2 linked regions of the Homo sapiens genome follow. The gene in region 1 interacts genetically with each later gene. Each region holds a gene or a part of one and is shown in the gene's direction. Other genes may lie near its edges.

Region 1 (3,262 bases):
ACTCGATATTTTGCACAGTACCTACTTACTGCTCCTGTAATAAACACAGCATTCAGCCTTGCTAACTACTAACTCCTGCCTAGTTCCAGGATGTCTCATTGGCCTTGCCTAACAGCCACAGGTTTTTTAATTAAATCCAGTGTATTAGTAGATAATGTGAAGTCACAGGTTGTGCCCTTCCTCCTGTTTCCCTCTCAGACCATTCACTGGGGAGTGCAAATAAGGCTGCACAGTAATCCCCCGAAGGGCTTGCTGGGCTCCACCCCCAGTGTTCCTGGTTTAGTAGGTCTAGGGTGGGCCTGAGAATTTGCCTAACAAGTTTCCAGGTGCAGCTGCTGCTGGTAGTTTGGGGACCACACTTGAAGAACCACGGGGCTAGGTAACAGAAGCTTATGCTGTTCTCTCGTCATGTTCCCTGTTCTTCAGGTAGGGAAGACATATGAGCTACTCAACTGTGACAAGCACAAGTCTATATTGTTGAAGAATGGACGGGACCCTGGGGAAGCGCGGCCAGATATCACCCACCAGGTAACTCCAGGGACAGTGCTCACAACCCTTTGAGCCTCTGTATGGAAGGGTTGGCAGCTGAGTGCTGCCTCTCTTCAGCCTTAACCATGTCTCGGTTTCTGCTTTGCTCAGAGTTTGCTGATGCTGATGGATAGTCCCCTGAACCGAGCTGGCTTGCTACAGGTTTATATCCATACACAGAAGAATGTTCTGATTGAAGTGAATCCCCAGACCCGAATTCCCAGAACCTTTGACCGCTTTTGTGGCCTCATGGGTAAGAAGCCTTAGAACAAAGTTAGAATGAACTTGTCAGTAGGGAAGAAGGGAGGAAGAGGAAAAGGGAGAACTAAATGTGGATTTTTAAGCGAGAAAATGGGAGAACAACATGATTAATACCAGGACAAGGACTGTTATTATTTTTCTATGTTTGTGGAAACTCCACTCCTGTTCTTGCAGTAGCTTCCTGGCTGAGTGAAAGAGGGAGTCTGAACCCATCACTGTACAGCTAGCCATATGCTTGGCAACTGTTTGTTCCTAACATTTCAGGAGTCCAGTCTAGATATAAAGCACACAGGGAACTCATCTTATCCATGGGGTTTTCCTTGTTCGATGACTGGACAGAAGGACTGTGGTCTCCATCTAGCTCTGAACTCTTTTTTCCCCCTTCTAGTTCAACTTTTACACAAGCTCAGTGTTCGAGCAGCTGATGGCCCCCAGAAGCTTTTGAAGGTGAGGTATTGAAACCTGTTAGTTGAAGGCTGGTTCTGGGAATGTTTCTGGGGCTGACTTTTCTCTCTTTTTTACTTTAGGTAATTAAGAATCCAGTATCAGATCACTTTCCAGTTGGATGTATGAAAGTTGGCACTTCTTTTTCCATCCCGGTTGTCAGTGATGTGCGTGAGCTGGTGCCCAGCAGTGATCCTATTGTTTTTGTGGTAGGGGCCTTTGCCCATGGCAAGGTAAGGTCTGGGCTCAACCCTGAAATTCTTGGTAGAGCTGAACTTAGTATAGAATTCCCAGAGCAGTAGGCATTTTAACAATGCTTACAATGAGCTAGAAGACACATGACAGTTCCACACCCTGCCCCAGGGCACATCCTTTGAGGGCTGCTGCCATAATTGGAAGTCACAGTTAGGACCTTCTTCATCCTTTGTAGGGATTTGATATTCAACAGCACAGCTGAAATACTAGCTCAGCCATAGTTTTCCTGCCCTAAAGAAGGGCTGAAACAGCTACTGAGTGACAGAGTTGGCTGACAAAACTGTTCTTTTCTTAGGTCAGTGTGGAGTATACAGAGAAGATGGTGTCCATCAGTAACTACCCCCTTTCTGCTGCCCTCACCTGTGCAAAACTTACCACAGCCTTTGAGGAAGTATGGGGGGTCATTTGACAGTAGTAGAACCTGTTCTGAAACCAGAAACTGTTGATGTCACATCCTTTGACCCTGGTCTGAGCTGACTGCTGGAAGATGATCTTTCTGCACTGAGACTGTGGAGTTTGGGGAAGCCAAGGCTGTACATTTGCTATTTGTTTATCCTATGAATACTGTTCTTGCAAACCTGGTTGTTTTGGGGTTCCTAAAGTATCCAGTGGTGTAAAACTGTTTGTTCCCCGGGACTTCAGGGACAGATAGGAGGTTACAGAGTTTGCAGTTTGGTTCCATGCTTTGAAGGCAGGCTTTAGCTCCCAGATTCCCATGTGCTAAAGGAGAGAACCCTGATGATGGAGAAGAACTGTGAAAGAGAGCAGTCAGGAATGCTAGTGGTGAAAAACTGAACAAACAGAAGTGATTTTATCTAATACAGTTCCAAGGTAGAAAAAGTGGAGCAGGCAGGGCCTTGCACCCCTCTCCACCCCCCCATGGGGGGGGTGGTGGTAGCGGCACATACACAATCATAGTAAATTGGCAGAAGAAAAACACAATAGATTCCTGGCTAGATGGGGAGAGATAAGGCAATGTGCATGGGGGAATCAGAGGGGAGATGTGAGCCCCTCTGCTCCTCCCACAAGAGTTTCCCCTTTGGGCCGGGCACGGTGGCTCACGCCTGTAATCCCAGCACTTTGGGAGGCGGAGGCGGGTGGATCACTTGCGGTCAGGAGTTCGAGACCAGCCTGGCCAACGTGGTGAAATCCCGTTTCTACTGAAAATACAAAAATTAGCTGGGCATGGTGGCGTGCCTGTATTCCCAGCTACTTGGGAGGCTGAGGCAGGAAAATCACTTGAACCCAGGAGGTGGAGGTTGCGGTGAGCTGAGATCCCGCCACTGCATTCCAGCGTGGGTGACAAAGCAAGACGCCTTCTCCAAAAAAAAGTTTCCCCTTTGGCCCCAAATGAAGACTTGGCTGGCAGCAGAGGCACAGCTGGAAGCATCGATCTTCCACCTCCCTGGCTTTTCCATTCTCTGCTCTGGGGCAAAGGAGTGCTGTGAAAAGGGAGACGAGTAGTTTCTGCACCAGTCCCGCACAGGCCACCTGCAAGACAAGAGGAGTTTGGAAGGCTGGTTAGTTACTCCTGTAATTCCTGGTCTATAGCCCTTCCAGATGTTTCCTAGCATGCCTCAATAAGTCACAGTAGTCATTGCCCATACTGTGTTCCTTAGTAGCCAGGCTAATCCTTGGAATTCACCCCAGATTTCTAATACTATTGTTTTTTTCCAGTCTGTTGCTCTATTCTGTAACCTGGTGGTAGTTTTAGTTTAGCTGTATTAACTTACCAGGGAAATGGATTATTCCATCTTCTTTAACTTCTCTTTCC
Region 2 (2,467 bases), on another chromosome or scaffold:
AATTATGTACACAAAAATATTTTCCTTGTAGAAAATAGTTTTCCAGACACTTAGCCTTCTGAAGTGCTCATCTCTTGCTTAAATGATAGTCTATTTAGTAGTTTAAAATAAAAATAATCACTCCCTATGATCTAGTTAATGTAATTATCCAGTCACTGTAACTAATCTCTTGAAGGGACTTTTGTGATAAAGAGCCAAGTTCAGAAGCATAGCGTGTACCGAAAATGAAGACTCTCCTATCTACTGCTACAGATCCTGTTGAAGAAAGAGCTTACCCCTTTCCCCCGGAAAACTTGCAATCCTGTAGTTCCCATATGTGTGGCATATGTCAGTTATGAAATTATTATAATTCAGCCTTCAAACTACTACTGATCAACTAAAGGAAAGCTAATAAGGTATTTCTTTTAAACAAGTATTCTGGAAAAGTAATAACTATGGCACAAATGTTCAGGAGTGTATATAAAAATATGTGGGCTCTCGATTTATTTGAGCAAACATTGCAATGAGGGTGTTCATTATGCTTCTAAGTAAGCTTTAACTAGACCACTTTCTTCTTATGTCAGATTGTGCTGGTTCTAGCTCATAATAATGAAAAAAATAGAATTATATTTTGTATGAATTGTTTCTAACAAACCTTGATCTGTATATACTTGTGAGGGGTTGTTTGGTTGCCTAATTGTTGATTGGTTGGTTAGTTGGGCAAAATCATTTATTACATGCAAAAATAGAAAATTATTTGTTAAATTCAGAGAAAATATGTGAAGTTTACAAAGGAACCAAAATGATAATGGGAGAATTTAGTCTTAAAAGTTTAGGTTGTCAGAGTTTATCTGATATACAAAAAAGTAGGATCAAAGTCTAGGAACAAACATTGGTTATTTCACTGAAACAGATTTTTAAAGAGCATATTAAGAAATTAAGACCATTAGATCATCTCTTTCATAATGATATGATGTTATTTCCATTGACGGCAAATCTATACTGTTCCTTGGTTTTAGAGTTGGGTATTCTTTCAAAAGTGAATTTAGGCACATGCATGTACATTGTATTTATAAAGATTATATATGTAGTTTCCAAGGAAGAAACAAAGACCTATACAGTTTAGACTTTATTTGTTTGGTGAACGTGCTGTTGTGTTTGGCATAGCTAGAGAAATGTAAGGTAAAAGGCTCACTTTGTTTTCCAGTGGGTCCAGAGTCTTCTCTATACCCAACATATGTTTACTTTATGAACTTAAATGGAAATTAATTTATTGTAGACTACATCTCTATTTGGAATGATGAGGTAAATGTATACCTTAGCATTTTCTTTAACAAAAATGTTCTGTGTGTCAGGAAAGAGGTGTGAGAGTGGTAGGCAGCCTGCCGCAAACACACGGATGGCTCCCCCCGCCACGAAGGTTGAGAACAAAGCCAGGGGGCCCAGAGGAGCAATAGCCCTGGGCCACAAGCGTGGGTAGGCCTTTCACGTATTCCGTCTGCACAGGCAACCAAGGCCAGTAGAAAGCTATGGCTGCAAAACCCTGGGGTGGACGATGTTTGATGATTAGACGGTCATCTCTAACTACTAAACTAATATCTGCATTCTTGTTAACATAAATCTCTCCTTGGCTATTTTAATAGCCACAGTCCCAAACTTCATCCCAGCTTAGATTTCTCAGCACTGAGGTAAACTCTGCATTGTCATCCCAGCGTACACCTTTAATGTTTTATTGATTTCACTGGCACTGTATTTGGACCTGTCCTTGTATATGTAGAGACATATGTGGCTTCATTGGTAATTTACAAGCAAAAGATGACATGACGTGACACCTGTATGAAAATGTGATGATTGAACTCCCTGTGTACAGCGAGTGAATTAAAATGTCTGCCTCTCCAGACATTTCTTAATGATTCCACTTAATAGACTCTATGTGTGCTGAATGTTCCTGTGTACATATGTGTGTTAAATAAAACAATTGTATTGAAGACTGTTTTTCTCACAATATTACCTTTTCCAGTGTTCACTCATCTTAAACATCCTCAGTTGAAATCCGTATGCTCCGCTAGCCCTGCTGCTTCTAATCATTCATTTCCCTGGAGAGCTGGCTTGGGAAAGGCAACTTATTCCCAGAGGACAGTAGAGCAGAAGTGCAGAGGTAAGCTCTCCCTCCAGAAACTCACTGGCACTCTCTGTGGTTTGGGAAAGGCGTTGCATGCCTGTTGCTTTATCTCTACTCTACATGCTCCCAAATAGACTGGTAATGGCACCAAATCATATCTTGTCAGATTGGATGGCATGGGTTGGCTGCCTCTCGGGAGCTAGGCTGAGATCATCAAGTTCATTGCATTTCACGCTCAGTTTGGAGTCGAATTTGAATCCCTCAGGTAAAGGGTATAATTGGTTTTCAGAAAAATCAAGAATAATAAAATAGGTCCTTACTGCTCATAGAGGGTTATGTGTAAGTAGTGAATGTACTTCTTGTCTC

The links. Genes that interact genetically often act in the same process or in processes that back each other up.
Region 2: changes in EMG1 (region 1) and WDR7 together harm fitness less than expected from each alone (positive genetic interaction), as found in Homo sapiens cells (one large-scale study listed by BioGRID).

The regions. Positions count from the first base shown.
Region 1 is NC_000012.12:6,973,913-6,977,174, forward strand, and holds part of EMG1 (ribosomal RNA small subunit methyltransferase NEP1), read left to right. Parts: intron 1-426; coding exon 427-528; intron 529-639; coding exon 640-781; intron 782-1,177; coding exon 1,178-1,236; intron 1,237-1,316; coding exon 1,317-1,466; intron 1,467-1,783; coding exon 1,784-1,897; 3' UTR 1,898-3,233; coding exon of another isoform or gene 3,234-3,262. Other genes in the region: LPCAT3 (lysophospholipid acyltransferase 5), read right to left, coding at 3,234-3,262. UniProt on the Homo sapiens protein: S-adenosyl-L-methionine-dependent pseudouridine N(1)-methyltransferase that methylates pseudouridine at position 1248 (Psi1248) in 18S rRNA.
Region 2 is NC_000018.10:57,027,826-57,030,292, forward strand, and holds the end of WDR7 (WD repeat-containing protein 7), read left to right. Parts: 3' UTR 1-1,967; downstream 1,968-2,467.